2 separate regions of the Homo sapiens genome follow, and region 1 is linked to region 2. Evidence: fine-mapped expression QTL. A gene starts in region 2. The other region holds a variant in brackets. All regions are shown on one strand. Distances are between the middles of the regions.

The links.
Region 1: its variant is fine-mapped to the expression of TRIM36 in lung (TOPMed, PIP above 0.99).

What each region holds. Positions count from the first base shown.
Region 1 is chr5:115,183,291-115,199,733 of GRCh38, reverse strand. No RefSeq gene overlaps it. Among named protein-coding and RNA genes, the nearest start is that of TRIM36, 22 kb to the right of the region's middle. The variant G/A (reference allele first, on the strand shown) is at 8,039.
Region 2 is chr5:115,160,571-115,177,013 of GRCh38, reverse strand. TRIM36 (tripartite motif containing 36) reads left to right here and starts at 7,106. Exons shown (of 10, transcript NM_001300759.2): 1 at 7,106-7,406; 2 at 13,262-13,496. The coding sequence starts at 7,380. RefSeq lists silencers at 6,691-7,110, 7,841-7,930.

The DNA of each region.
Region 1 (16,443 bases), 23 kb before region 2:
CCCAAGCTGTTTTCAAGCAATTCAACTGCATCCCAGAACGAAGCTCAAGAATAGCTGTAGGAATACAAAAATATCCAGTATTCAACAAGGTAAAACAGTTTCTGGCATTCAGTCAAAAATTATCAGACATACAAAGTAGAAAAATATGACCCCAAATGAGGAGGGAAATCAATCAATAGAAACTGACCCAGAAATGACACAGATGTTAGTACTAGAAGACAAGGACATAAACATAGTCATTTTTCTATATTCCATATGTTTTAAAAGCTGGAAGAAAGATTGAACATGTTAAGTGGAGACATGGAAAATATGAAGAAGACCCAAATCAGACTTCTAGATGTGAAAACTATTGTGTCTGAGATTTTTAAAATACACTGATGGTATTTTCAGGATATTAGATATTGAAGAAGAAAGGGTTAGAGGAACTGAAGGCATAACAATAGAAACTATGTAAAATGAAATGGAGAGAAAAAATATTTTCTAAAAAGTGAAAACATGAGTGAGCTACAGAACAACTTCAAGCAGCCTAGGGTACATGTAATTGGAGTTTCAAAAGAATATTCGAAATGGCTAAAATAGTCCCAAATTTTATTAAAAAGTATAAGTCCACAGATCCAAGAATCCTGCAGACTCCAAGCACAAGAAACAAATTGCACAAAGCCAGTAATAAAGAGAAAATTTTAAAAACAGCCAGAGTAAAAATACCTTATGTATAGAACAAAGTATGACAGATTTCTCACCAGAAACAATGCAAGTGACAAAACAGTGGTGTAGTATCTTTAAAGTACTAAAAGAAATAAACTGTTAGCTGAGAATTCTATATCCAGTGAAGATGTCTTTTTAAATGACTACAGAATGAGAGAGAAGAAAAAAGAGATTGATGTAACAAGTATGGCAAAATATTGTTAATAGTTCTATCTGTGATCTGCATGAATGGGCAACCATTATACTATTGTCTCTGTTTCAAAACTCTGATAACTGCAAAGTTTTGAAAATATTAATTTGATTGTGTTAGAATCCAGGCTCTCATCATTCTCAGTTTTACCACTTTCTTGGGTTTTACACAGGGCTGCCTCTCACACTTCTGTTAAGTGGCTGGCCACTGAAGGCATGTAAGTTTATGTAACAGCTAAAATTTTGAACTGATTATTTCAAAAATCTATCTGCACAATGAAAGGTTAGTTTCATTAGAATCACCTAGTAAAGTTATAAAACATACAGATTACAAAGCCTCACCTGTGAAGCTTTTTATTCAGAAGGCTATGGTGGAGATAGAAATTTTTTTTTAAGTTCTACAGGTAGTAGTGATAAGAAGCCAAGTTTAGCAATCCCTATATTAAAGAATTCATAAAGCCGTTTCTAACATGGAGAGTCCATGATCTTAAAGTGACTTCAGGCTGGTAATTATTGTACTATGTGTATTATGCATCTTAAATAGTGGTTTGAAGCAGTGTCTTTAGGAGGCAGTTAAGTTTCTGTCAAAAGTATTCTTTTCCTAGGAGGTTCATCAGTAATAGGAAGCCTGAAGATTAAAAAAAAAAAAAAGTAAAGACCAGCAGCTCTAGACTGTCTGCTTCAGGCCTAGCTAACTAGACTACTATGTTCAATACTGGAGAAGGAAGATGTTTTTATTGAAAACAATTACGAAGTGGGGTTGGTTCAGTGTTAGTTATATTGAAAACGTTTATTGATTGATTGAGACAGGGTCTTGCTCTGTTGCCCAGGCTGGAGTGCAGTGGTGCAATCTCATCTCACTTCAACTTTGACCTCTGAGGGTCAAGCGATCTTCTCACCTCAGCTTCTTGAGCTGGGACCACAGGCACATGCCACAACTCTGGCTAATTTTTTGTATTTTTTGTGGAGACAGGGTTTTGCCATGTTGCCCAGGCTGGTCTCAAACTCCTGGGCTCAAGCGATTCACCCACCTCATCTTCCCAAAGTGCTTGGATTACAGACATGAGCTACCATGACCAGCCAAACGTTTATATTTTATCCCTACCTTCCTTATAGATGAAACCTTAAAAAGTAATTTCTAAATGGGAGGATTATAGTATATAAGCAGAAAAATGAGTTTCAGGAAGCACTGCTTTTAAGTCTTTTCAAACAACTTTGGATGTGAGGTACCATTGAATTCATCTTGCTCTTTGTTGCCTGTGTACCTTTGTGTTTTTTGTTATTTGTTTTTGCTTTTTAAATTGTATTTTTGTTTTATAAGTCCTGTGTGACTTATGCTTTAAAGAGGTTCTGTTTTGATGTGTTTCCAGGATTTGTTTCAAGATTTAGAGCTCCTTTTTGCAGTTCTTTTAGTGGTGGCTTGGTAGTGGCAAATTCTCTCAGCATTTGTTTGTCTGAAAAAGACTGTATCTTTCCATCATATATGATGTTTAGTTTAGTTTCGCTGGATAAAAAATTCTTGGCTGATAATTGTTTTGTTCGAGGAGGCTGAAGATAGGGCCCCAATCCCTTCTAGCTTGCAGGGTTTCTGCTGAGAAATCTGTTATTAATCTGATAGGTTTTCCTTTGTAGGTTACCTGGTACTTTTGTCTCACAGCTCTTAAGATTCTTTCCTTCATCTTAACTTTAGATAACTTGATGACAATATGCCTAGGCAATGATCTTTTGCAATGAATTTCCCAGGTCTTCTTTGTGCTGCTTGTATTTGGATGTCTAGGTCTCTAGCAAGGCTGGGGAAGTTTTCCTCAATTATTCCCCCAAATATGTTTTCCCAACTTTTAGATTTCTCTTCTTCGTCAGGAACACCAATTATTCTTAGGTTTAGTCATTTAACATAATCCCAGACTTCTTGGGAGCCTTGTTCATATTTTCTTATTCTTTTCTTCTTTGTCTTTGTTGGATTGGGTTAATTCTAAGATCTTGTCTTCAAACTCCGAATTTCTTTCTTCTACTTTTTCAATTCTATTGCTGAGACTTTTTAGAGCATTTTGCATTTTTATGTGTGTCCAATGTTTCCTAAAGTTTTTATTACATTTTTCTTTATGCTAAGTATATCCTTGAACATTTCTTCCTTCACTTCTTGCATCGTTTTTTGGATTTCCTTGCATTGGGCTTTGCCTTTCTCTGATGACTCCCTGATTAGCTTAATAACTAAGCTCCTGAATTCCTTTTCAGGTAAATTTTTGGTTTGGAGCCATTGCTGATGAGCTAGTGTGATTTTTGGGGGATATTAAAAAGCCTTGTTTTGCCATATTACCAGAATTGGTTTTCTAGTTCCTTCTAATTTTGATAGGCTCTGTCAGAGGGAAAGTCTAGAACTGAAGGCTGTTCAGATTCTTTTGTCCCATGGGGTGTTCCCTTGATGTAGTACTCTTCCCCTTTTCCTATGGATGCAGCTTCCTGTGAGCTGAGCTGCAGTGATTGTTATCTCTCTTCTGAGTCTAGCCATGCAGCAAGTCTACCCGGCTCCAGGCTGGTACTTCAGGTTGTCTTCACAGAGTCCTGCGATGTGAACCGTCTATAAGTCTCTCAGCCATAGATTCCAGCACAGTATTTGGGTGTCTCCTGGGTCCTGCAGGAGCAGTCCACTTTCTTCAGATGTTCTGTGGGTCCTCTCTGGATTTCTGGTTTGTTCTCGCAGTCGTTCTGGAGCAAAATTCATGATGAGAGCCTCTGCATGCTGCTCTGAGTCGGAGCTGCAATTTAGTCCTACCTCCCGTGTGCCATCTATTTTCACTGCAATTTATTAAGATGAAATTTTATGTAAGTCATAGGAGATTGCAAACTGGGTTATGACTGTTGAGTGTTTAATACTCATAGTATTTGTGGAAGATAATGCTTCTTCTATGCTTGTAAATTTGTAATAGCATAATGGAAGTTATCCATTAAATGTTGCTAGTCTACACAACATGTATCTGGAATGTGCTTTCCTTCAGCATTCTATGATATTATAGTTGGGGGAGAGAGAAAGTGGACAGAAGGGCATCAATGAAGATGCTTGACTGCATCAAAAGCAAATGTTTTTCCCTCCAGTTCTTTTCGTTTTGTAATGCTGCATCTCATTTTATGTTTCACTGTTGTCTGAAGAGGGGGCAAAAATCATCAACTGAGAAAACAACTGAAAAAAATTCTTACGGGGAATTTTTTTATTTCAAAAATTGGTTTCCTTACTAACAAACTTTAGGTAATTTAGCTTAAACTGGGCTTAAACTTCAGGGGACCTAAAGGCATTAATCTTTTCTCCTTAAACACAGTACAAAAAGAGTTTCAATACTAGATGACCCAGAGGAAAGGTATTATATTACCCAAACCTGCAAGTATTATCATACTTTTCAGTCATTGAGACAGTTCTTTCTTTGGTATTTTTTAAGTTAAGCCATCATATTAGAAAAAAATTTAAAACAGAATAGAAGAAGTACTATTGCCCAAAAGATCTCGCAGAGCTGACCCTTCTCCCATTCCCCACTTCTCTCCAGAGGCAACACCTGTGAGCAGTTTCTTTTCTAGAAATTGACCTGCAGGTACAATCTCATATGTGTGACTATGTTCCTACACACATACTTATATACAACGTTAACCTAAAGGCCAACTGACTCCACAGAAATTCACATTTCTTTCATTTCATACAGTCTCACATTTTCCTATTCCAAATATCTATTATAGGTTGTTAGGAAAAGTGACCAAATTAGTAATCATTGTCACAGTTTCAAAAAGGGCTAAGGAGTGACTTGGCAAAATGACTTATAATCTCATAAAAATAATTAAGCAATAATAACTGAAAGGTCATAGAACAAGAGTTTTATGTTTTAATTCTACTCCTCCTTTGTTGCCACTGCATGACAGAATCTTTGGACTTTGAGCCTTGGCAGAGTTGGACTGCTGCAGAAACCACCACAGTCTGGCATGAATTAAGTCCCACTGCAGAGGTGAACTGGAGCCAAGATTTCAATCTCCAAATGATTACTACTGGGGGAAAAAGGCTCTGGGCCATGCTGACAATGAATATCAGCTGCTTTGGGTAACTGGGACTGTTTGCACTCCTCTCCCCGCAGCCGAAAAAACCAAATTGTGGTTCTTATAGTACTGACTGGATTATTTGTGCTACATTGCTTCCCCACTGTCTTCACATCATAGAACATGTCGAAAAAAATTATTGCATTTGTAGGGCACCCGCAGTAAACCCAGGAGGCAACTTATAGGCAGAATTCACCATCCTGGAAGCTCTAGTTGAATCGTGTCCCAGTTCCTTTCAAGGGCTGAAGGTATGTCTTAGTATATAGAATTCATTCCAGGTAATAGAATTTGTAATTTGTAAATATTTGCTACTTAACACATGGTCTGTAGACCAACTTTATTGTAGCAGGACATCATCTGGGGCATTTTAGAAAAGCTGACGCTCAGGCCCCACCTGAGACCTATCTATGCTGCCCAGGCTGGAGTGCAGTGGCTATTCACAGGCATGATCATAGTGTAATACAGCCTTGAACTCCTGGGCTCAAGCACTCCTCCTGCCTCAGCCTCCTGAGTAGCTGGGACTACAGGTGCAAGCGACTGTGCCCAGCTAGCATCTATATTTTAACAAGGTCCCCAAATGAGTCATATGAGCATTAAAATTTAAGAAGTGTTGGTCTACAGGTAATGTCTACCTCCGTGGCATGCTTTAAAAGGCCTTGGAGATCTACTCCCTACCTATTTTTCCAGCCTCATCTTTGGTAACTGCCTCTTTCCGACCCAATGATAGTAAAGTATCTAACACCTGAAGGCACTGTACTCGCTACCCTAGTGCCTTTGCACAGGTGGTTCTTAGCCTAGAATTAATTCTCTTTACCTGCCCTTTTGAACTCTTATTTATCGTTCAACTCTCAATTTAAAAGCCAAGCTTCACCTGCCCCAGCAGATCTAGGCAGAGGGAGCGACCAGCCTATTATAAAGCCTTCCTTCCTCTTGCTTCCTAGTTCTGACTATGTGCCTTTATTATGGTACTTACCACATTGTACCATAATTCTGTTTATTCTCTATTTTCCCAAGCAGTCTCTGAGCTCTTGGTGTCAGTATCTTTGATTTACCCATTTTTTAATTTCTAGGAGGTAAACACAGTACATGATATGTATGCAATTCATGCTTATTGGAGAAATCAGGTAATCTTGTTGGCCATTTCTGCTGGAAAATTACTTCCTCTTAAAAATGATAATGTATATAATATTTGTAAGTCATTTCAAAATAATTGTTTGTAGTCCTCTGATTTGTGGCCAGTTTCACAAAATGCCAGAGAGCATATAAATCCATTTCTTATCACTCAGACCAGATATAAAATCAAGGTCCATCTTTTCAAGATTTAATGTATTTTAATGGTCAGTTTATATAATAAAGTGATAGCAATGAGGAACTAAACCATGTCAAAATAAGTTATGGAAGAAAACATCTTCTGATATGAACACTGTCTAGTAAATTGTTGTTCAGTGCTTTTTACCCACCAAAAATGTAGATATTGGTCAGTCTTTTTTTTTTTTTAGATACTAAGAAGTTCTTTCTAATTCCTAGCTGGTATATGTCAACTTTAAAAATCATGTTCTTGGCCGGGCACGATGGCTCATGCCTGTAATCCCAGCACTTTGGGAGGCCGAGGCAGGCAGATCACCTGAGGTCGGGGGTTCGAGACCAGCCTGACCAACATGAAGAAACCCCATCTCTACTAAAAATACAAAAAAATTAACCAGGCGTGGTGGCACATGCCTGTAATCCCAGCTACTCAGGATGCTGAGGCAGGATAATCGCTTGATCCCGGGAGGCGGAGGTTGCAGTGAGCCGAGATCGCGCCATTGCACTCCAGCCTGGGCAACAAGAGCAAAACTCCACCTCAAAAAAGAAAAAAGAGGGGCATCCTACAAAATACCTGACCAGTACTCCTTAAAACTGTCACAGTCATCAAGAACAAGGAAAGTCTGAGAAAGTGTCACCGCCAAGAAGAGATAGGAGAATTATTTGTAACGTAGTATCCTGGATGGGATCCTGGAAAGAAAAAGGACACCAGGTAAAACCTAAGGAAATCTGAATATAGTTAATAATAATGCATCAGTATTGGCTCATTAATTGTGGCAAATTTACCATGCTAATGTAAGATGTCAATGAAAGGGGAAACGGGTGCAGAATAGTTGGGAACTCTGTACTATATTTGCAATTTTTCTGTAAATCTAAAACTTTTCTAAATTAAAAAGCTTATTTTTTTAAAAAAAGTATACACCATGTAGTAAAGTCCTGTCGTATTTGTGGGATTCTACTGTGCTGGCTAATATACCATCTTCTTTATAGAAACCTTGAACCAAACCCATCGTTCTCTCCTCTGAAGAGCTTAGGGCACTTTATAGACAGGGATATATGTTTTTATTGTTTCTACTGATCCAGGTGGCAACTTTTATGATTCCTGGGTTATATAGTAATGATATCTGCCATAGGGAAGGGCTTAGTAAAGGTCACCAGAATGGCAGCATAGCTGGGTGTGGAGCCTTGTATGGTACTTGTTCCAGTGCCATTCCAGGCTGGGCAGGAAAACTGGCCAGATGAATTCAATTCCATTAAATTCAACAAATATTAACTAGCACCTACTATGTATTGTAAGCACTGGGAAGCTATTAAGTTGGTGCAAAAGTAATTGCAGTGCAAAACTGCAATTACTTTTGCACCAACCTAATAAAACTGAAAAAGATTCTGTTTGCTGCTCAAGGACAGTGTGGTGTAATTGGGGAGAGACAAATGTATCAATAGACAATTTCAGTACAAGAAGTTATGTATCACGACAGATGTGTAAAAGGTGTTGAGGGAGCTTGGGAGGAAAGATACCTCGCCAGGCAGGAGGTGAGTATTGAGCCCTAGGAAAAAAGTCCCAGCCTGAAGTGCAGGTGAATCCTGGTTAGGGGGAAATGTGTTTTAGTTCTGTAGGGGCTCTGCTATGTCTGATTTCTTAAGCCTTGAGGGCTCTTCTGAAAGGTTTACTCAATAGCAGTAGTGGGACTACTTTAAAGCCAATTTTCCTGGCAGGGCATCAATCTTACTTTCGGGAACTCAAGTTTTGTGAGAACATGAAAGC[G/A]CTTTGATATATACGAATAGCAAAATCATAGTTCAAATAACTTGGCTTACTCTTCTGTCTCTGAGGTATGAATGGGGAAGGGAGATTTGCGCCGGATTTTGTGGACTGTAAAATATGCTGGCACTCCTAGGAGGGTGGTAACCGACCTGAACTTTCTGTTTATACCTTTAGGAGTGATTAATCAGGACAATGGAGATTAATGCTATTTTCTTCTACCCTTTGATAGTAAGGCATAAGCATTTTTTTCCTTAGGCTGTGAACCAGATCTGGGAGACACTTCCTGGGCCCCTTTCCTCCCTGTGAGAAATTTAATAATCCACATTCTCATTAGATCTCTAGGTCTCAGTGTGAGGCACTGTACAAAGCCCATTTTGCAAACATGAGAGACTTTTTTCTTTTCAGTAGTAAGTCACTGCATTAGAGAAGCAATTTCCTGATATGGAGGTTCCAAATAAATTGCCTGTGCTATCTAAATGTTTTTCCATGTATTTTGAAATTATTTGCTCTCTTTCCATGCCATTCTCTGAGGGATGAAGAGCAGCCAGCTGTTGGGTCCTCTTCTCCTTCTGCTTGCTGTCAGCACCACCTCCCCTCATCCTAGGAGGTCCTTCTGTCAAAGGCAAATGCCCATGACATAGCCTGAGACAGTTAACATCCTTCCTTTCATATCCACTTTCCTAAGCTAAGAAGAGTAGAGAAAGTATTTGCTTGGCTGTATTCAGCATCTTGTGTCTCACAGGCTACAATTCTTTGGTAAATTATGCCACTAATTGTTTAGCCATCAGGGAAAACTGGTCTTTTATAACATTTTCCTTTTCTGAGTCTCCCTAACACAATGAAAAGGCCCTAGTGTCCAGACGAGGATTTAAAAAGTGGAGTCTAGGGATAAGTTTACAATGCTTGGGGAAGAAAAAGGATACCCCACGAGTGAGAAGGCTGAGGCAGGAGGGGTGCTTGAGCCCAGGAGTTCGAGGTTACAGAACAACCTGGGTAGCTGATGCAGTGGAAGACATCACCTAAGGGATTTTATTATCTTTTGTGAGTAATGGAAGACTGGCATGTAGAATAACAAGATTCAAATATGACCACAATCAAAGGCACCTGAGCAAAGAAACACGCCCAGGCCCTTCCGAGTGGTTGAGGCTTGAAAAGTAAAGGCAGATAGTGGAGAGTTTTTAAATATGAGACAAGAGTACTGGGTGGTGGCTAGGACCATGGGGTCTCACCTGGCTCTGCCACCACCCCTCCTAGTGACTTTGAGTAAGTAGGTCACTCCACTGTTTGTGCCTCAGGGTGATTATCTGTAAAAGGCAAATACAATAGTACTTTGCGGAGTTTTGTGAGGATTAAGTAGGATGATATGAGTAAGCACTTAAAATGGTACCTCACCTATAATGAGAGCTTAAAAAATATTAGCTGTTATCATTATTATATTAAGATGTGAACAGAGCTCACTGGGGAGTCATCCTAAAGTTAAGACCCAAAGGCTCAGAAGGCTTTTAAATAAATTAGCTGGAGGAAAAAATAGATTCCTTGAAAAAATTCAGGAAATTTCCCTTTAAAAAACAAAAAGGCTTAGTTACAACCCCCACACACCTGCTGGCAGGTGGAGCCAGTCACAGCAGGAGAAGGAAGATGCCTGGAGCTTCTCAGGAGCATGGCTCAGACCTCCTCATGTCTTCTCCCACACGATTTAAATTTAGAATCCTATTCAGAGGACAATTAACCAAAGCTAAGTATACTGTCGTGCCTAGGGTCATGAACTAGAACCAAGCCAACTTGGCCTTTATTGGAACAGTGAACTTGGGGCTCCAGCTCTTGAGCCAGCAAGCAAATGACCTGTTGACTTAAGCAAGTTTCAACTTTCACCCTCATCTCAGAGCTCTGGTAAGGATTAGAACAACTCGAGTATCTTTACAGAATGACCTGTAATCTGCAAAGTGCTTTTAATTGAGAAGGATGATGTGTTACATGTTCTGTTATGCTCTTTACCCAGGTCTTTCATCTCTGAAGAAGGCGGTGGGAAACAAATGTTATTTCTCCTCTTCATACTCCTTTTCTCATTTATTCTGCAGGTATTATATTATAGGTGGTACAAGTGAATAGTAACAATAGAGGATTCATTGAGTCTTTAGTCTGTGTTGGCTACAATTCTAAGCTGTTTACATATATTAACTCATTTAATCCTTATAACAGCTCTCTGAGTCAATACTGTTATTGGGTCCATTTTTACAGATGAGTAAACTGAGGTATAGAGAAATGAGTTGCTAAAAGTCTCACAGCTATAACATGGCTATATTAGTTGTGACTAGGCTTGGTTGTATGTAAGAGAAAACTCAAATAACATGGTTTAATCAATTAATCAAGTTATAGTTTAATTGTCTCTGGAGTAAATGAAGATAGAAGGTAGGTGGTCAACAGTTGGAATGGAAGCTCCACCATCCTTAGATTCAGGCTCTTCCCTCTTTCCTCTCCAGCCATTTTAGTGAATGACTTCTATCCTCAGGTTCTCCTCAGTAGTCCAAGATGGTGGTTGGATGCCACGTATCAGAACTGTATTTCAGTTAGAAGGAAAGGAAAGAGAGGGCAAAAGAGCTCTCCCAGAAGCTGGACATAAAAACTCCCATTGATACCTCATTGGTCAACCCTTTCTGCAAAGCAAGCTGCAAAAGGAGTTTTCCTTTTCTTTTTAAGTTGGGCACATTTCTCAACGTTCTGTTACAAAGAAGGAGGAAAAGTGAATATTGAACCTATATACCATAAAATACAGTTCATTGGACCATAACTGTGGTGTTGGTTGGCAGGTGAAGACATAACTGTATTACTGTATTTATTTCCCACTTGGAATAGTCATTTAGAAAATATAAATAAGGTGGTGCACATAATTTTAAAAATTAGAAACTTACTAAAGCTTCCAGGTTTCCCTTAAGCACAATTTATTTATAATTAAGAAAATTCTTTAACTTCACAGTATTTAAATGGTTATTTGAGACTCTTGAATTTACGAGTAAAGGAAAGGCAAAGTGGTGTTTGGGTAAAATTATTTTTCTCCTTATTTTTATTCCGAAATTTTAATCTGAAGCTTTTCTCCCCGCAAGGCATTATTCTCGGGTTTCTGTTTCAAAATGTTCAGTACTAAAGCTTTCATTTGTCTTCTAAATAAAACAAGGGAAAACAATACTTGAATTAGATAGTTAGATAGTTTTTAGTTGGATTATAGTATACTAGATTGTGGCTAATACTTTTCTTTTGACCTCAGTTTCTCCCATTGTAAAGTAAGTATATTTATTCATTTGTTCATTTATTCATTGAGTAAACACTTTTTGGACTCAAATATGTGTTAGATATTAACACTTAATATTTGATAGTCATTTTTGTTTCATTATTAACCAAAAAATGGGATAATATGTAACAAATTATTTAAAGCTTGTTACTCTTACTCAATGAGTACTTTTACAGTTAAATAAAAAGTGTTTCTTTTCATAAGGGTAAACCAAATTTGTCTTAATAGAATACTGAAAAAGAAAGGTAAAATTCCTTTTGGAATTATAGGAAATTCAAATAGTTCAAATAAATATGTATCACACAGAGAATATTTTATATTATAAATCTTTAAAGATAAGCATATTGGAAGGAAAATGTCAACAATTTTCCTTTTCAAGAGTAAACAAATGCCTTGTGAAACACAAAGTTCTCCCCTAGCAAGCTGGTGAAATGCTGAAATAGATATATTTTTTGTAAAAATACAAAAATTAGCCAGGCGTGGTGGCATGCACCTGTGATCCCAGCTACTCAGGAGGCTGAGGCAGGAGAATCGCTTGAACCTGGGAGGCAGAGGTTGCAGTGAGCCGAGTTCGCATCACTGCACTCCAGCCCAGGTGACACAGTGAGACTCCATCTCAAAAAAAAAAAAAAAAAAATCATAGCTCCCCACCTTGCATTGGCTGATCAGTGTGTAATTTAGGGACAGATGAAAAGATGCCAGCCTCTCTGCCAAGAACTTGTCCTTCCTGCTTCTCAAAGTCAATGTTATTTTTATGGTGTGATGTGTATAGAATCCTTTCTTAGCACTTTTTTTCTATTCTGTGAATTTCTTCCCAGATATTTTCCTCTTTTTGGTAGAGCTAGAACAACAGTGCTCAAGCTCTACCAAATACTCAGTTTAATCAATAAGTCGGTAGCATATATTGGTGTTATTAACATTTTAAATTTCAATTTAATGGAGATAAGAGCTGTGCCTTTTATTGAGGAACCCTGGCACAACAAGATTTTTAAAATATGTGTGAGTGGCAAAATAGAAAAATCGATATGATTTATCATTTTGCTGGAGCCAATGAACTACATGTTTGTCCATCAGACAGTAGCCAACACTATACTAATTACTACCTCCTAATATACCCTATCTCCTCACTCACTGCCCCTAAAAGGAATACTCGAACTGAATCTGAGATCCTATAAATTATCCCTCTTCCTCTCTCTAGCTTGCCTCCCTCTACACCCACATAACAAGCAATCTTCTAAAATAAATAAAGAACAACAGGATGATAGCTCTTAGGGTCAGCCTAATAAGAAACCTCATTATTTCTGGTTTAGAACATTTCAAAGCAACACCCAGGAACCTTCAGAATGGTAAAAAAACATTGATGCTTAGCTATGAGGCATGAGGCAGGAGGAGTAATACAAAGTGGACCTTTGCCCCAGGATGATGACTGAGGTATGACTAGAAGGTTCTTCATCCTCTCAAAGAGCAAACTTTTGTGGCAGTAACACAACCAGGCAAGATGAGAGAAGCAGATCAAAGAAACTAAAAACAGAGTAAGTGGTTAAATTATTTATGATGATGCTGCAGCTGTATTGATCAGAGGCAGATTTCTCTCTTAACCCTACTTTCCTTGTACCTATAGAAGTTGTCATCGCCCAAAGAATTTTTGACCTAATGTGAAAGTGTGGGGGTTGATGGAGAGAGAAGTGGGGGGAGGGAGTGGGTGAATAGCTAGTCAGGACCTTAGTTAAGAGAACACTGGTTATCCAATATGGTTCTACCATATCTAATGACAAACTAACTGATGATCTCCACATATCTCATTTCCTAGGAAAGAAATGGTGTATCATTTCACTGTGTACCCTGCAGGGAAATAAAGGTTCTGCCCTACCTACCAAGATCATATTGCCGTAGCATCAAAAAGCCCCATACAAAATAAAAGCTTTCAAAACACAGCATGGTATTAAAAGGACATCTGTATTTTAAAAGTCTCGTTTATTTTGTTTACTGCTGAATCTCCATTGCCAGACACTGCCAGGCACACAGTAGGTGGTGACTTATATTTAATGGACTATTTAATGAATGAATAATATTGGCACATTGCGATTCCGTAGATCTAGTTGAGATTCAGGCACAGAGGGACATGAAGGCCATGTGCTCAACAGCATGTCTTAGGAGGCCACTGGCTCCTGTGATAGCCTGGGCTGGCCATCCTAGGCTTGTTCCTGGGCAAAGTCTTGCTTGCTAGAGAAATATCATCCCCTGAGAATGAGGATAGCTTTAGGATATGTGCACACTGTTCTAATTCTACCATTTGAGCAACTCTAAGACAAGGAGTGATCCTTTGTTGTGACACAAACAATCCCAAGGAATTTTGTTGCTCTCTTTAGGCCAAAGATTGTGTGTAATAAATTTCTGGAGAAAACACACTGTTAAGGCTGGGCATGGAGGCTCATGCCTGTGATCCCAGCACTTTGGGAGGCCAAGGCTGGAGGATTGCTTGAGCCCAGGAGTTCAAGACCAGCCTAAGCAATATAGTGAGACCCCCTATGTCTACAAAAAAAAAAAAAAAAAAAAAAAGAAAGAAAAACTAGCTGGATGTAGTGGCATGCACCTGTAGTCCCAGCTACTCAGGAAGCTGAGGTGGGAGGATGGCTTGAGCCCAGGAAGTGGAGGTTGCAGTAAGCTGTTATTGCACCACCACACTCAACCTGGGCAATAGAGCAAGACCCTGTCACCAAAAAAAAAAAAAAAAAAAAAAAAAGAGAGAGAGAGAGAGAGAGAGAAATAATCAACTTTACCTGACATTTGTAGAATACTTCATCCAATAACCAGGAGAATATACACTCTTCTTAAGCACACATGGAATATCATCCAAAATAGGTGATATTCTAGGCTATGGGTTAGTAAATTACAGGCCAGGGGGCAGCTGCCTAGTTTTTTTTAAACCATTTTTAAGTGTTCAACTGAGTAACATTAATTATATTCAAAACGTTGTACAATCATTACCACTATCTATACCCAAAACTTTTTCGTCACTCCCAATGTAAACTCTATCCATTAAACAATCCATTCCAGACTCTCTCCAGCCCCTCTACTTTCTGTCTCTATGAGTTTGTCTATTCTAGATATTTCATATAAGTGAAACTATATAATATTTATCCTTTTATTTCTGGCTTATTTCACTTAGCATAATGTTTTCAATGTTCATCCATATTGTAGCAAATGTTAAAAGTTCATTACATGTTATGGCTGAAAAAATTCCATTATATGTATATATATTTTGTTTATCCATCTATTGACAGATACTTGAGTTGTTTCTACCTTTTGGTTATTGTGAAAAATGTAGCAATGAGCCCTGGTGTACCAGTATCTGTTTGAGTCCCTGTTATCAAGTCGTTTGGGTATATAACTAGGAGTGGAATTGCTGAGTCATATGGTAATTCTAAGTTCTAAGAATTCTAAGAGCATTCCAATTTCTCCACTTTGTCATTAATACTTGTTATTCTCTCTGTTTTTGATTCTAGCCATTCTAGTGAGTATGAGGTAGTATCTTATTGTGGTTTTGATTTGCATTTTCCTAATGACTAATAACGTCAAGCATCTTTTCATGTGCTTATTCAGCTGCCTATTTTCATAAATAAATGTTTATTGAAACATGTCCACATTCATTTGTGTACCTATTTGTGGACCTATTGTCAATGGTCCCTTTCATCCTGTAACAGCAGAGTTGAGCAGTGATATAGTTTGGATATATGTCCCCTCCAAATTTACTGTTAAAATTTGATCCCCAATGTTGGAGGTGGGGTCCAGTGGGAGCTATTCTGGTAATGGAGGTGGATCCTTCATGAGTATCTTGGTGCTGTCCTCGTGGTAATGAGTTAAGTTCTTGTTCTATTAGTTCTCATGAGAACGGATTGTTAAAATGAGCATGACACCCCCCCCCTCCTTTCTTTCTTGCTCCCTCTTGCCATGTGACATGCCAGCTTCCCTTCACCTTCTGCCATAAGTGGAATCTTCTTGAAGCCTTACTGGAAGCATATGCTGGCACCATGCTTCCTGTAAAGTCTGCAGAACCATGAACCAAATAAACCTCTTTTCCTTATAAATTATCCAGTCCCAGGCTAATCTTTTGTAGCAACACGTACTAAGCCAAGTAGTAACAGAAATTATATGGCTTCAAGTCTAAAATGTTCATTAATATCTTACCCTTTAAGAAAAAGTTGCTGACTTCCACATTAGACTATTAAAAAGCCTGAATATATTTAAAAACATTAAAATCATTCAAAGGATGATCTTTGCTCAAAACAGAATTGGATTAGAAATCAACACACAGAAAAATAGAAAATCTAAACTATTTGGAAATTTGAAATAATTTGGAAATTAACACATTTGTAAATAACCCATGGGTCAAAAAAATCACAATAGGAAATTTTAAAAATATTTCTAACTTAATTTTAAAAAAATCAAAAGTCATGGAATGTAGCCAAACCAATCAGTACTTAATGGTGAAAGAATGAATGCTTTTTCCCCAAGATTGGGAATAAGGCAAGGATGCCCACACTTGCTGCATGCATTCAATGGAGGTTCTACTGGAGGTTCTAACCAGAGTAATAAGGCAGAAAAATAAAGGCATACAGATTGGAAAGGAAGAAATAAAATTGTCTTTAATTACAGATGATATTATAAGGAATCTGAAAATAAAATCTGGAATTGATAAGTGAATTTTGCCCCATTGTAAAACACAACCTTATGCAAAAATCAGTTGTGTTTCTATATAACAGTAATTAACAATCCAAGAAATGACACCAAGAAATCAATTTTATTCACAATAATATTAAAAGGAGTACCTTGCAATATGTAATACAATAAGTACAATATCTGAACATTAAAAGTGATAGAACATTGCTTGGAAAAATTAAAGAAAATCTCAATAAATGAATATTCCAATATTGTAAAACCAGATTATGAGATGGTTTTACAAATCCATAATTTAATAAAAATAACTAAGCAGTACACTGACAATTAGTGAATTTTATGGTATATAAATTGTACCTCAATAAAGCTTATTCAAAAAAGATTTTTTTTTTAAAATGACCTTTTTGAATACAGGTATCAGTCAAATTTTAGGTTTACATTTTTG
Region 2 (16,443 bases):
CTATTGTGATGGCTACTTTAATATTTAAAGTACACAGTGATATCTGCCATTGTGACCTTTCTGCTCATCAAACAATACTGCATAAGTGTAGTTAATACTTACGATCATTCTCAAGAGGCTTAAAAATGAAAATGTATTTCCTTACATTTCACTAGCAGTGAAACTTTTACCATTTCTGAAAGCTGTCTTTTCGCTTCTTTTGCAGCTAATCTCTTTGGATTAAAAGAGAGGTTTCCAAATCTGTGGTCAATATCTAAGGTTACTCAAAGCAGTATTTTCCAACTGTTTTGGTCTCTTGTAAGATTTGCCTCACTAATTTTTTTATCACCGCTTCTGGAATCATATAATGAAGATTTGATGACAAGGAATATAGAATTCAAATTTTAGTATATCTCTTTGTATTTTGTGTATTTAGCATATTTACATTTATGTGTAAATAGCCAGAAGGTACATTCGGTTCCCATAATTTAATATTTACTGTTCAGGCACATCTAAGAGCATAATGGTTTCAGCAAAATAAGAGAGGCTTTGTAAATCTTATATTTAATTTTGATACTGAAATAGGCAATGATACCATTACTTGGTGAATTATTTTAACTTTGAACATCTTTGAGGCACAAAAAATTCAAGAATTTTTACAAACACAAACTTTACCTTAAAAAAAGAAGACACTTACACTCTGAAAGAATTAGTCTTGGAAAGTCCTCAAATCTAGACTAATAAAAGGTCTTAAACATCTCCTGGGACCAAAACAAAAATACCACCAAATGATCTCTTTCAGAAGGACGAATAGATAGTTGCTCACACAACTAAAATCTAAACTGGGGTGATAATGGTAAGGTTGTGCCCACTGCATAAGTATTTTTATTTTTATTTTTATTTTTTTTTGAGACACAGTTTTACTCTGTTGCCCAGGCTGGCGTGCAGTGGTGCAATCTCAGGCTCACTGCAACCTTCACTTCTGGGTTCAAGCGATTCTCCTACCTCAGCCTCCCTAGTAGCTGGGACTACAGGCACACGCCACCATGCCCGGCTAATTTTTTGTATTATTAGTAGAGACAGGGTTTCGCCATGTTGGCCAGGCTGGTCTCGAACTCCTGACCTCAAGTGATCTACCTGCCTTAGCCTCCCAAAGTGCTGGGATTACAGGGGTGAGCCACCGCATCCGGCCTACAAAGTATTTTTTAAAGGTTTTTTAAATATATGTATTGAAATTGGGTGAAATGTATGTGCTGTGGGGAGTAGGGAAGGCAGGCAGAAGATTTAGATTTTTGTAATATCATTTGAAAAGAGCTACTTTCATAAATATAATTTTCCTCTTATTTTTTTTTACTATATTGCGCTAAAGATAATTTGAAAAAAAAAGGTGTCTCCTAAACTACTTTGTAAAAGGATGTTTAAATCAGATTTTTAGTGAAATTGTAAATTCTGTGTTGTATACTCACCTGTGGGCAGTGCAATAAGGATGCTGGACTGAGACCCAGGTTTGAATCCTGGCTTTTTAGTATATGGCCATGTAGTATATAGCCCATAGATTAAGCATATTACTTAATCTATGGGCGGAGGTGGAGAGGAATTTTAGTTGTTACATGTCTTCTCTGAAAAGAATTATACCTATTTCACAGGGTTACTGCAAGGGTTAAATGAATCTTTTATGCAGGTTTCCTAATACTGTTATCGACACATCATAGGCCCTCAATAAATGAAAGCTATTACTTCTAGCTTTTATGACAACAGGGTTGGGCCTTGAGACACCTTATATCCACATTGTGATCATTAAGAAGTGGAGGTAGGGCTGACAGATAAAATACAGGATGTAGACTTGAATTTGAATTTGAGATAAATACTTTTTTTTTTTTTAGAATATGTGCAATGTGATATTTGGAACATATACTAAAAAATTATCATGTATCTGAAATTCCAATTTAACTGGGTGTATTGTGTTCTTATTTACTAAATCTAGTAACCCTACAGGGAAGAATAATAAGATGTGGTCAACAGAGAGGGACCTGCTAGATTGCCTCAAAATATTACCAGTTTTGTTTACCTCAAGTTGGCCAGAAAACTTCTTTGCCCACTAGTTATGCAGCTAATACACTCATCATTAATGGAAAAATGTCCGTGAGAGCAGCACTGGGTTCCTCTCATCTTCCTAATAGCAAATTGTTGCTCTGGTGCTACTGTTTAGTAGATAAATGCTTACTAGATTTTGTCTTAAATAAAAGCTTAAATGGTCGAGAAGACAAAACATCAAACATCAGTGTACAAAGACTAGGTATTTGTGTTAAACTGAGTGCTAAAAGAATTCAGAATAGAGGGAGATAATCAATGAAATCAAAACTAATAAAGGAGGCTCCAGAAGTGCAACTTGAAAGATGAGGAGGATTTGGCCAGGTAGTGGAAATCTGAACTTGCTGGCTCTCTGGACTCCTCTCCCCTGACTTTGTTCCCATAGAAACACTTTATGACTGGTAAGCTTGGCCTGTCAGTAGCTTGAGTCAATAATTGATAGACAATACCATTCATTATCCCTTTACTGGTAACCTCCTGATACCCAGCAGTATAGGTGGTCCGTGTGCCAATCTACTGGAAAACCCTGTAATTTACTTTATTTCTGTACTTTTTATTTTCTGTAAGTCCAGGTGCTCTCTTGATTTTATACCTATGGCTGCTTAATTATTAGGGGTTCCCAAAAGGGGGCAGAGTTTAGGGAATATGTGGCCATATTACCTTGTTTCTATTTCTTGTTTAGTATATACCAATAGAATGGTGGTACCCTGCCTGTCTGATCTCAGAGCAAACCAATTAATATGCACCATGGTCATTAGGACTTGACCCAGCCATGAATTTAATCTCTTGTTGGGTATTAGGAATCAATATGGAAAAAGACCAAGTCAGCTTATGGAGTAGTATATGATTTATAGGGTAAGGGGTTTATATTTTAAATATCAAGCAATGAACATTGATTGAGGCTCTGTTTTATCAAAGCCTGAATTGTGTGTGTTTGGAGAGGGGAATCTTGACCTTTTGGACTTCATGAAGTAGATGGATGTGAGAGAGCTCATGCCCCTGTGATAGAAGAGCAATTAAGTAATACCAGAAGTAGAAAAGTAGATATCACAATGAAGGCAAGAGTATTGAAGGTCTGTGGACTTAGGGGGATAAGAATAGGATAGGTTTTCTTGTTTTGCATTTTAACCCAGATTTTAAAATAAACTATTGAAAAAGGAGGTGCTAGGATACTCCAAACTGCGGAGGAATAGGCACCAAGGGACAGCATATACAATGTAAAATAGGGGAATAATGATTTTTTTAAAGTTCAGATATTTCATGCCATTCCTGCTAAAAAGCCTTCAAAAGCTGCTCAACATCTACAAAAGCATAGAGGCCTTCCATACTTTACCAGACTTATTTTGTTACCACAGGTTTACCACCCTCTAACTCCTGCTCTTCAACACATGCGTGCGCGCACACACACACACACACACACATTCAAATACACATGTCCACACACCCCCCACCCCCTTATGTTCCAATACCAAGCTGCCTGTGGTCCAGGACTGTAGCTTATTCTGCTCCTTGTGCAAATAGAGGCATGAGGACAGGGCTACACATATGGAAAATCATCTGTAAATACTCAACTTATAGGCTACTGTTGTAATCTAGGCATGCGGAGAGGGGGCTTAGAGTGGGCACAGGAATCAGCTGTGAGGATGAGAAAGAACAGAATCTGGTAACAAACTATGATTTAAGGCTGATCAGAGATAGACAGGGAAGAAGAAAGGAAGATAAAAAGCAAGCAAACAAAACCCACCAGGATTTTAACTTGAGGAACTGGGAAGGGTCTTGGTATCCTGGGAGGCTGGGATATTTCGATGCTGAAACAGAGAAGTTGATGACTTGACACAAAGCACGGCAGCCCAGGGAGACAGAAATGATCAGGGAACTGGGAAAGCAGTGGTTTAAAATGGCAGTTTTCGTATTTGTCTTCTTCCCCTCACCTTTTGTTTTTAAAAGTTTATGGATAGAAAGGATTTTTAACCTTAAAAAGTTTTAGAACTATAACATGTACATATAAGATGGAAAGATAATACAATGTGAGTGAAGAGTTAAATCTTGTATACCTAACTCCATCCCTTACTTCTCCACAATGGTTATCATATTTTGTGCTCTATTCCAGATGCTTATTTTTGTTTGCCTGTAATCAGATATACCTAGTTTTTTGGCCAGAGTGGCAGCATTCAGAATCCTTATGGTTTTGTACTTTTTTTTTTTTTTGAGACAGAGTCTCGCTCTGTCGCCAAGGCTGGAGTGCAGTGGCACGATCTTGGCTCACTGCAACCTCTGCCTCCCGGTTTCAAGTGATTCTCCTGCCTCAGCCTCCTGAGTAGCTGGGATTACAGGCGTGTGCCACCACGCCAGGCTAATTTTTGTATTTTTAGTAAAGGGGGGGTTTCACCATGTTGGCCAGGCTGGTCTCGAATTCCCGACCTCAGGTGATCCACCTGCCTCGGCCTCCCAAAGCGCTGGGATTACAGGTGTGGGCCACTGCACACATTATATTTTAGAAATCCTTTCTCATCAGTACATTGATTTTAACTGCTGCATAGTATTCCATGGTATGAATGTATATTATGCATGATGTTTAGTTATAAATAAGGTCTCAATAAGCTCTTTGTACATGTTTTTGTGCACACATGCAAGTATTACAGTAGGAACATTCTTAGATGTGGAATTGCTTAGTCAAAAGGTAAAAATATTTAAAATTTTTGATAGGATTTGTAAAATGTCCCTTGAGATAAGCTGTACCAACATACGATATCACAAAAAGGTTTGAGCAAAATAAGAGAGGCTTTGTAAATCTTGTATTTTTGATAGAGAAATAGGCAATGATACCATTACTTGGTGAATTATTAAACTTTGAACATATTTGAGGCACAAAAATATTCAAAAATTTTTACAAACACAAAATTAAAACAAGAAGACACTTATACTCTGAAAGAATTAGGCTTAGAAAGTCCTCAAATCTAGACTAATATAAGGTCTTAAACATCTCATGGGACCAAAACAAAAATACCACCAAATGATCTGTTTCAGAAGGATGAATAGATAGTTGCTCACACAACTAAAACCTGTGCTGGGGTGATAATGGTAAGGTTGTGCCCACTGCATAAGTATTTTTATTTTTTTGGAGACACAGTTTTGCCAAGTGTATTAACACTTGCCAAGTATATTAACATCATGTTTGAATTTTGTGGATCAGGTAGAAAATGATAGCTCAGTGAAGTCTGATTTGCAAAATGGAAGGCCATAGCAATGTATTTTCACCAAAATATTGTCTATACAGATTTTATCTTTAATTCCTGTTAATGGAGCCTTCTAATCACTTTTACTGTGTCAACTAATAAGTTTTGGATCAAAGCAGGTGTGCGGATGTGAAATTACAGCCCAAGGGGAATTATTTAGCTCAAAGGCCAGTATGAGAAAGACTTATAATGCTTTCTAATGGTTGAGCCTTTAAATATATGTATATATATATAGGCACCTAATTCACGCAGGCATTTGTTAGTCTCCTCCTGATTAGCACTTTTCAGAACCTGTGGGAAGGAAGCCTTCCCAAGTCTAGCACCTGCGGCCACGCAACGGGCATTAATCCGGATCAGAACAGCCCAGGCATTATTACCTGGCAAAGCTTTCGTCCTCTGTTCACCTCATCTGTAAATGGAGGGTATTCCATTAGAGAAAATTGCTATAGTCCCTCAGTGTTTTTAATTCTACACTCCTTATTTAGATGCCGGATTGGAGACGAGGCTACCGCTGCAGACAGGGCTGTGGGAAGACGACGGAACTTGCCACAGCGACAGACTTCTCCCAAACAGGAAATAAAAGTGGGAAGCATTTTAAAACCTAAACGAGATGTCTCGCTACAGCTCTGTAGTCCCTACTTACCCAGCAATTTAGGGCATCTGTTCTTAAAGCCTAATACATAGGAATGAATTGTTTAGCTAGCCAGAAAGGCAGTGCGTGATCTAATAATCCTAAATTAATTTGTTCTCCGTGTGTCCTGAAAACAACACCAGAAACACACTTGGGCCGTGGCAGGTGAAATGTGCGCCGCCAGTCCTTGAGCTGGCGCGCGCCTTAACGTTCAGCAGCACTCCCCGCGGGGGTGCGGGGGTGCCGGAGCCGCTCAGGACCCTCTGTCCTGGCCCTCAGGAAGGAAAGCGTAGGCCCGGGTGGCGGGGGGTCTCTCCCTTGCCGCGGCCTTTTAACTTCAGTCCCTGGCCAGCATCCGGGAGAGGAATCTCCACCCTGCAGGCGGTCCCCGCGCTACTGGGCAAGAACGTGCGGTGACATCGCGACTTGGGGGTATAGAAGCAGAAAGCGGGATATGACTGCTCGGTGCCCAGTCAGGGACTATTAAGTTCACCCAGCAAGTGAAGCCAGAAGAGAACTGGGACAAGCCGGGCGGGGCCAGGGAACCCCAGGCCGCGCCTGGCTAGGGACCGCGGAGAGGGCGGGCGGGGTCTCACTCTGGTCGCCTCGCGCAGCTCTGCCGTGCTCGCCGCGGCCATTCAGGGAAGGTGGCTTAGGCTCGCCCTCGCCCGCACCGTCCTGTGCCGAGCCTGGAAGCGGGGCTTCGAACCGCGAGTGAAGAAAGCGCAGTGAGAGCAAACTGAAGGGCGGAATGGCAGCGCAGGGCCAGGGGCCAGGGGCCAGGGCTGCAGCCGGCTGCTCTGCTGCAGCGGAGCCTCCCCGCCCCGGCGCCGCCCTCGGCACCCGCCCACCGCTCCCCGCTGCCCTCACTTCCGTTCCTCAGAGCCCCCCAGCCTGGCATAGGGCGACGGGCGACTACCCGGGTGGGAGGGAGGGGCTGATGCGTAGGGGGAAGGTGGCGGCGGAGGGCGCCGAGTCCCAACCGCGTGCCACACCCACGCCCAGCCGAGTCCCGCTCAGCCTACCACTCAGACACCCGGCCTACCAGCCCCAGGCGGCCCCGCCTCTTTTGTGCGACTGGCGCTGTTGCCTGGGCAACGACCAGGCCACGCCCTGTCCACGCCCCGCGGTGCCCCGCCCAGGTCTCTGCGCGGCGCCGTTCCCAGCCGCAGTCCGCAGGAGCCGCTGCTGCAGCCGGCAGCTGGGCGGGATTCCCGGGGTAGTCGCTGGGAGCAAAGCTCGCTTCTCCCGCGCCTGTGCTTTTGCCTGCCCCGGCTTACTTCTCCCCGCGTCGGTCCGCTGGCCACGTACAGCTGACCAGCTCATCTTCCAGCTTCGGACCGAGGCTCCACGGCCGCCGCAGGGACCCGCCCACCAGACCCTGCGCTCGGTAGCCGGTGTGAGTGGAACGTGCCGCTGATGACACCTGGCAGAAGGCAGCCATGGAGGGCGATGGCTCAGATTCGCCGGTGAGTGCGGAGGGGACCGCCGCCCCCACCTCGAGGGCGGTGTGCCGACCGCGGCTCTTTCTCTTTCCTCCGCCGGGAGCCCGGAGGGAGCCTCCTCCCGGGAGAGCAAAGGCAGGCGTGTGGGGATCCCGCTTCCTCTTCGCCTTCTCCCGCCCGGGGCTAGGTTCCGCAATCCGGGGCGTCCCCTTTCTATCCCCGAGAGCCGGACGTGGGGTCCCCTGGGCCGGAGAAGAGCGCAAATCCGATGGTTGCCCACCTGAGCACCTCGGGGGAATCATGGAGGGTCTCTCTAATGGAGCTCAGGCTGTAGAATTAATTAGCGTTTGGGAGTCGGGTGCGGGCAGAAAGCTGGGGCGCGTCCCTCGCGCTTGCGGGGCCGCCCTTTGTCTAGGCGTCTTGACCCCCGCGGGCCCGGCCGGCTGCCGCCGCCTGGGCCAGAGGCTCCTCCCCGGCTTCGCCTGCCCGCGGGGGGCGGGCCGGGGCCCCGGCAGCTGTCAGCCTACAAGTGTTTTTGTTTAAAGGTGTCGAATGTGCAATTCTTCCGAAGTTTCTCGAGGAACTGCTTAATTGAGGGAGCCGCCACATCACACTTAATCAGTTTGTTTCTCCCTCAATGACAGATGAACTAAATTTTCTCTTGGGTAAGAAATACTTTATGTCCATTGTGATTAAAAAGTCAGATTCAAGACACTGCTTTATGTACAAGAAAATGGAAATGATTTTAGATCCTCCCCCAGTGACAAGTAAACCTGAACTGACCATATTTATACATAAAATGGAATGTAAGAACCTATTTTGGATATCCCGGACAAGATTTTCTTTTGAATTAGGTGCCAAACCCTTTGTGAAATGAGATAGGATGTGAATATTCTGTATTCTTTGATGTGAATTGTGAGGTTTAGTTATCTTATTTCCAAATCTGTGAACAGTTGGGAGGTGATATGGCTCTTCATCACATATTTGAGTGATGCAGCAAGAGACTGCATCGAAACACCCACTGACAATGATAAAACCAGTTGGCTCTAATGCAGTTAAATTGTCAGAGATTATTGAAGCACTTGGTGTCACTTTAGGGAGAATAGGTTAGCATACATTTTAAAATTTCATTACATTTAGTTAAGTCAATTTTAATTTTCTGTGTATTTCTAGTAGCTGAAATGATTGTACAAGGTTATAAGTACTTTGAAGTTGGGCTGTCTTTAAAATTGCAGGGATGCTGACTATAGGATTCATAGATATGAAGTCTGGGATACATGGAAAAAACTACGTAGAGAAATGATGGGGAAACTGGTATGAGGTCATCAAACTTTTTTAGTTGTGATGAGTCTAAAATGCTTCTCACTTAAAATAATGAAAGGCTGTAGTATTGAGAGCAGTTGTAGTGGTGCTTATACACCTTTTTAAAGGGTCCCCTACATTCTTTTAATATTCTGTTATGGTTAGGCTTTGTGTCCACACCCAAATCTCATCTTGAATTGTAATCCCCAGGTGTTGAGGGAGAGACCTGGTGGGAGGTGATTGGATCGTGGGAGTGGTTTCCCCCATGCTGTTTTCGTGATAGTGAATTCTCCCAATATCTGATGGTTTTATAAGGCAGTATTCTCTGTTCTTACTCCCTCTCGCCTGCTGCCATGTAAAACGTGCTTGCTTCCCTTCCTGCCATATTTGTAAGTTTCCTGAGGCCTCTCCAGCCATGCAGAACTGTGAGTCAATTAAATCTCTTTTCTTTATAAATTAGCCACTCTTGGGTATTTCTTTATAACACTGTGAAAAGGGACTAACACAGAGAATTGGTACCAAGGTAGTGGGCACTGCTGTAAAGATACCCAACAATGTGGAAGTGACTTTGGAACTGAATAACAGGCAGAGATTGGAACAGTTTGGAGGGCTCAGAAGAAGACAGGAAGATGTGGGAAAGTTTGGAACTTCCTAGAGACTTGTTGAATGGTTTTGACCAAAATTCTGCTAGTGGTATGGACAAAGAAGTGCAGGCCAAGGTGGTCTCAGATGGAGATGAGGAACTTGTCGGAAACTGGAGTGAAGGTGACTCTTGCTATGCTTTAGCAAAGAGACTGGCAGTGTTTTGCCCCTGTCCTAGAGATTTGTGAAGCTTTGAACTTGAGAGAGATGAAGCGGAGCGTAAAAGTTTGGAAAATTTGCAGCCTTACCATGGAGTAGAAAGGAAAAACCTATTTTCTGGGGAGGGATTCAAGCTAGCTGCAGAAATTTGCTTAAGTAAAAAAGACTCAAATGTTAATTGCCAAGACTATGGGTAAAATGTCTCCAGGACATGTCAGAGATCTTGGCAGCAGTCCCTCCGTTTGGCAGGGCCAAACAGGTGCATTAATGAAGAGAGCCCCATCACAGGCCTGGAGGCCTAGGAGAGAAAAATGTTTTAGTGGAGTGGGCCCAGGGCCCTGCTGCTGTGTGCAGCCTCGGTATCACAGGATCCTTAGGGTGTCGCTTCACCAGCCAGAAACCTCTGTGGCAAGTGTTGCCTTTGCCCAAGTTTTGCTCAGGCCCACTGGGCTTGTTCTGCCCACTTGACCCAGCAGGCTGTGCTTGGTTTTCACTACTGGCCCAGATCCCACGGCTGCCAACGGCAAGCCAGGTGCAGAGCAGCAAGGGGTGCATGAGTGAGCGAGCGCGGGGTACAGTGTGCACAGCCAGGCATGGTGGCTGTGGCGGGGCAGGCAGGTCCAGGTGCCAGTATGGGCGCCGGCTCCTTGCTGTGGCTGGAACAGGTGTACCACAAGTGGCTCCCACTACAAGCACTGTGGAACATGGTGGCACCCAGAAACTTGGAGATGCCGGCAACTGCAGAGCCACAAAGAGGATGTCACAGCCCTGGCTTGGGGAGCTCCTAAGTCCAGGCTCCCTGAAGGGCTGCAGCTCTTCTCTCCTCTCTTGTCTCCTCATCGTCACCCACAACATGGCGAGCAGCAGGGTGTATTTGACACAGTTTGTGTTACAGCTTGTTTGGTCCTGCCATTTGGCAGGTCCAGAGTTCCTGTACTGTGTCCAGGAAGAATGAGCTACATGGACAACTGGAGGGTGAACAAGGTGCTTTATTGAGCAAAAGAGTAGCTCTCAGGAGACCTGTCATGGGTAGCTGCTTTCTGCAGGCAGTTCCTCCCGACAACTGCAGCTCTCAGCAGAGAAGAGACCCGGAGTGGGTACCTCCTCTCTGCAGGCAGGTCATTTTGTCGAGTGTGCAGTCCTCAGTGGAGAGGAGACCCAAGTGGGTAGCTCTTACCTGCAGGCAGGTCGTCCTATCATCTGCCAGAGTCTGGCTGAGTTTGCGGTTTTTATGGGCTTCAGAGGGGAGGAAGTGTGTGCTGATTGGCCCATGGGTGGCCATGGGTGGGCCTGGAAAATTCACTGTAAGTTTTCACTCCAGTCAGTGGAACTGGCAGCCTGGACCCTAGGCTTCAGGCTATCCCTGGCTTGAAGGTGGGGTTTCAGCAGGGACCTGTCCCTTTCCTCCCAGGAGCCTGTCTCCCTCCCACTGCTGTTCATGGTGCCCAGACTGTTTTAGCTGAGGGACGCCTGCAGTACCACGTTGAGTCACCCTCAGCCCTGCCCTTGGCCTCCCTCCCACGTTCATCAGCGCCCAAAGTCCAGAGGGAGCTGAGGTGGCAGGGGGCTGGTGTGTCAGCATCTCCTCAAGCACACACACACCTGGCCAGGTCATGTCAGTGCCCGGGCTTGGCCACAGCTTTTCTCCAAAGTCAGAGTGGGCACTGGGAATGGGGAGAGGCCAAGCAGTAGGAGCAGGCACTTCTGAGCATGTGGGGGAAGAGAGGCATCCTGGGCCCCCGAGAGCATAGGAATGCCCTAGTCCACAGCTGGGTGGCTGCAATTGCACCCAGGAGCATGGGGCTCCCTCCGCACCAACTCGGAAGGGAGAAGGGCTCCTGCCTGTTCCTGGGTCCCGCTGGCTCTGCAGAGCAAGCAGGTCCGGCTGTGCCTTCCCAACTGCAGCCAGCATCTTTGCAGCAGCTGCTCCAGATGGGCTGCAGCTGCCATCACTGGGACTTGGTGCCCTGTGTCCCAGCTGTTCCAGTACCAGTTGTGGCTAAAAGGGGCCAAGGTACAGTTCAGACCATTGCCTCAGAGGGTGCAAGCCTTGGTGGCTTACACATGGTGTTGGGCCTACCAGTGCACAAAAGTCAAGAGTTGAGGTTTGGAAACCTCTGCCTAGATTTCAGAGGATGTACAGAAACACCTGGATATCCAGGCAGAAGTCTGCTGCAGGGGCGAAGCTCTCATGGAGAACCTCTGCTAGGGCAGTGCAAAGGGGAAATGTGAGATATAAGCCGCCACACAGAGTCCCCACTGGGGCACTCCCTAGGGGAGCTCTGAGAAGAGGACCATGGTCCTCCAGACCCCAGAATGGTAGATCCACCAACAGCTTTCATCATGCGCCTGGGAAACCTGCAGATACTCAATGCCAGCCATGAAAGCAGGTGGTGTGTGGGCTGTACCCTGCAAAGCCACAGGGGTGGAACTGCCCAAGGCCATGGCAGTCCACCCTTTGGATCAGCGTACCCTGAATGAGAGACATTGAGTCAAAGGAGATCTCACTTGTGAGCTTTATGACTTAATAACTGTCCTTTTGGGTTTCAGACTTTCATGGGACCTGTAGCCCCTTTGTTTTGGCCAATTTTTCCCATTTGGAATGGGAGCATTTGTCCAATGCCTGTACACCCATTGTATCCTGGAAGTAACTAACTTGCTTTTGATTCTCCAGGCCCCTAGGCAGAAGGGACTTGCTTTGTCTCAGATGAGACTTTGGACTTGGACTTTTGAGCTAATGCTGAAATGAGTTAAGACTTTGGGGGACTGTTTGGAAGCATGATTGGTTTTGAAATGTGAGGACATGAGATTTGGGAGGGGCCAGGGCCACAATGATATGGTTAGGTTCAAATCTTATCTTGAATTGTAATCCCAAGGTGTTGAGGGAGAGACCTGGTGGGAGGCCATTGAATCACAGGGGTAGATTTTCCCCATGCTGTTCTTGTGATAGCGAATTCTCATAAGATCTGATGGTTTTGTAAGGCAGTATCCCTGCTCTTGCTCTCTCTCACCTGCCACCACGTAACACAGATCTGCTTCCCCTTCTGCCATGATTGTAAGTTTCTTGAGGACTCCCTAGCCATGTGGAACTGTGAGTCACTTAAATCTCTTTTCTTTATAAATTACCCAGCCTCAGGTAATTTTCTTTATAGCAGTGTGAAAATGGACTAATACATACTCATAAAGTGCTTTTAAGATAATTGCTTTGATATACAGCATGAGAACCTCAGGCATTAATGAAGAATGGTCGCATTTAATGTAGAAAATTGCTGATAATTCAGCTTGTAAATAGATACCAACTAGGTTTCCATGAACATACTGACTCAGCTAGTGTTTAATAGCTCCTGTTATTTGTCAGTCACAGTGTTAATTCACTAAATAAGAATATAGTCTTACTCTTAGTGCTGTATTCAAAATTTTTATTGACATGATCTACTTTTAGGATTTCACCGAAGTCCTAAATCAGTGCACTGGTGATGGAGATTCGAATGATGGCTTTATAATTTTTGATAAAATATCATGGTCCCCTAATATTTTACATAATTTTTCTCTTCATTTTTGCCTTTTACTATCTCATGTTCCTTCAGTTCTGGGTTATGGGTGTTGAGGGCAGTTGATGGTATCAAATTTTATTGGGGAAAAGAAATTTAAAATTTAGAAAATCATTTTCTTAATTCTTTTTGGAAAAATAAACACATGTACTTATTCAGGAGGTATAAGAATGTTAATATATTTACCCACTAAGAGCCTTTAACTTGGACTATTTTACTCTCAAGGTTACCATTAAGAATATCGAAAGGGAGCTCATTTGCCCAGCATGCAAGGAGCTGTTTACCCACCCATTGATTCTCCCTTGCCAACATAGTATCTGTCATAAATGTGTAAAAGAACTCCTGCTGACTCTCGATGATTCATTCAACGATGTGGGATCAGACAACTCCAATCAAAGCAGTCCTCGACTTCGGCTCCCCTCCCCTAGTATGGATAAAATTGACCGAATTAACAGACCAGGTATGTGTTAGAACTGTGGGCTGGGATGGTAGTGGGGGTAAGCTTATAGATATATATTCAGTGGTAACTGGAAGGAAAATTATTTTTGTCATCTTGAGAGTTAATTTTTCCAGGTGAATAAATTAAAACTGTAGTTATAAAGGGGCCTCCCCCACTGTTAAAATGTCAAAATGAACTCTCGTCTTTTGATACATACTTGAAGTAGATATTGGATATTGAACATGAACTTTGTGTTAAACTCCTTATTAACTGTGTTTGTAAGTCTGGGCACAGTGGCTCACACCTGTAATCCCAGCACTTTGGGAGGCCATGTCGGGTGGATCACCTGAGGTCATGAGTTCAAGACCAGCCTGACCAACATGGAGAAACTCCATCTCTACTAAAAATACAAAATGAGCTAGGTGTGGTGACGCGTGCCTGTAACCCCAGCTACCTGGGAGTCTGAGTCAGGAGAATTGCTTGAACCTGGGAGGCGGAGGTTGCAGTGAGCCGAGATCGCGCCATTGCACTCCAGCCTGGGCAACAAGAGTGAAACTCTGTCTCAAAAAAAAAAAAAAAGCTATGTTTGTCTTTAGGAATTATTCTGACTGTGCAATGTACTTGATACATAGAATAATGGACTACTGAAATACTAACTAGGAAAACATTCATATATGGTAATAGGAAAATAAATACTGCAGAGTTAAGGAGTGGGACTACCTAATGGCTAGTCATCACCTTTATGTTTCCTCCCTTGCTGCCAATCTGGCGCACTGAGGAGGGAAAGACAGCATCCCTTGAAATCAGTCCTACTAGATAAAACTTGATATTCTGCTGGTAGATCTTCATTGGCTAATTGGGAACCCATGCTTGATTGACCAAAGAAAACTTTTTGTATGTTAATATTTAGCAAAAACAAATAAAATTTTAGTTATGTACTAGATATTTCTACTTATAATTAGATTGCACTTATATACATATTTCACAAAATTCTGTAGGCTTTTAATGTTAAGATTTGGCTAGTTTTTTATGTGATTCATATGAAGAACAAGATGAATGATTTTCTGTTTTCAGGAATTTACCTGACATGGTACTCTGTAGATGCTTAATAAATATTTGTTGAATGGATGTTGAATGAGAAACCTCTGCCACAGGATTTGTACAGAGAGTGCCACAATGGCTTATATTCAGTAATAATGGCATTTGTCTTTTGGAATATGAGCTCCATTACACCATACATTTCACTGTCTAGATCCGAAATAGCATTACTGGGATGTTTCTCCCTCTTCTTTAGGAAGAACCCTACGAAGTTAGATTATGTCCTGAGAGGGGAAACTTAGAATGGTGGAGTTTGAAAACTTTTCTCTGTAAAGAACAGTTACAGGAGATGAGAAGGGGTGACTGCAGAATATGATAGTTTTCTTATGGATAGAATGAGTATGCTGGATATCTCTAGCAGAGGTTCCAGGTCAATGAGTAGATGGAATAGGAAGGCAGATTTAACTTAGCATGAAAGAAGACACACGCGCACACACACCCCACTAAGGCTGTCCAGAAATGAAATGGGCTAAGTATATCAGACTTCTGCCACTAAATGTGTTTACATCAGGTGTCAAATTTAGATGCTGCAGGGCCAAACGGGTGCATTAATGAAGAGAGCCCCAGGCATAATAAATATAGGACTCTCCTTCATTTTAGTTTTTCGCTGTAAATATGGAGACAATAAATATTTGATTTTCCCTTTAGCTCAACTACTGTAAGAAAACCATCAGCCCAAAGTGACAGCAGCCAACTGATTTTACGACTCCTTATTGGAGAAGTAGAGTGTGGTTTGGGACTGTGGAGACTGAAACGGATGCCTTGTTAAAGGGGGCAGTAACCACTTGGCAGTGTCAGGGTTGAAGATGCCAGATTGTCAGATTTATTGGTTTTTCACAAAAACTTGATAGTGGTTTCCATGTGAAATCTGTTTTTTAAATATTTTCAATTCAGATTATTTAACAATACCACACCAGCTCAATAGGGCAGGACAGCCAAAACATGTCTTTGGCTGTGACCCATGCAGCATTTGGGCCATCAGTATCTGAAGACTTTGTTTAAAACAATGGGTGGGTGGCCACTGTCTGCAATATTGTGGAGGGTGTTTCTGCTGTGGGTGGTAGGTTGGGCCAGTTGTTCTGTCACATGCCATATCTCCAGCACTGAAGTTCTATGCCTTATTAAATACCAGTGGCATTCATTCATTCATTCAACAAATATTTGAGCACCTGCTGGTTACCAGATATGGCTAAATGGTTAAGAACAATGAGCGAGATAGACCCACTTTCTTTTCTTTTTTTTTTTAAAGACACATACCCCTTAGCATTGTGCAAAGCTTTATAACAGCTGTAATTACTAGAGCATAGTCCTTTATCACGAACACACACAGATCAAGTTAACAAAGAGAGAGCACCCAAAGGGTGCGAATGCTGTAAGTATGGAAATCATTCCTGGAGGTTTTAATGCAAATTTTAGGATTGTCCTTCACCAGTTTTAAACTAGTAGAAGTCATTGCAGTGCAAATGTGATGTTACTTGCCATCTATTTATTGGGCATTTGCATATAATTCTTTTTTTGGTAGATTCATGAGTAATATTCCTTTTTTTCTGACAGCTTTCTTCTTAAGTTTTTATCCTTTAGACATTTATTTGAGACAGGGTCTCACTCTGTTTGTTACCTGGGCTGGAGTGCAATGGCTTGATCATAGCTCACTGTAACCTCTAACTCTGAGGCTCAAGTGATCCTCCTGCCTCAGCCTCCTACATACCGGAGACTAGAGGTGCATGCTACTCACTCGCACCCTGCTAATTAAAAAATTTTTTTTGTGGAGAAGAAGGTCTCACTTTGTTGCCTAGGCTGGTTTCAGACTCCTGGCTTCAAGCAGTCTTTGTGCCTTGGCCTTCCAAAGTGCTGGGATTACAGGCGTTAT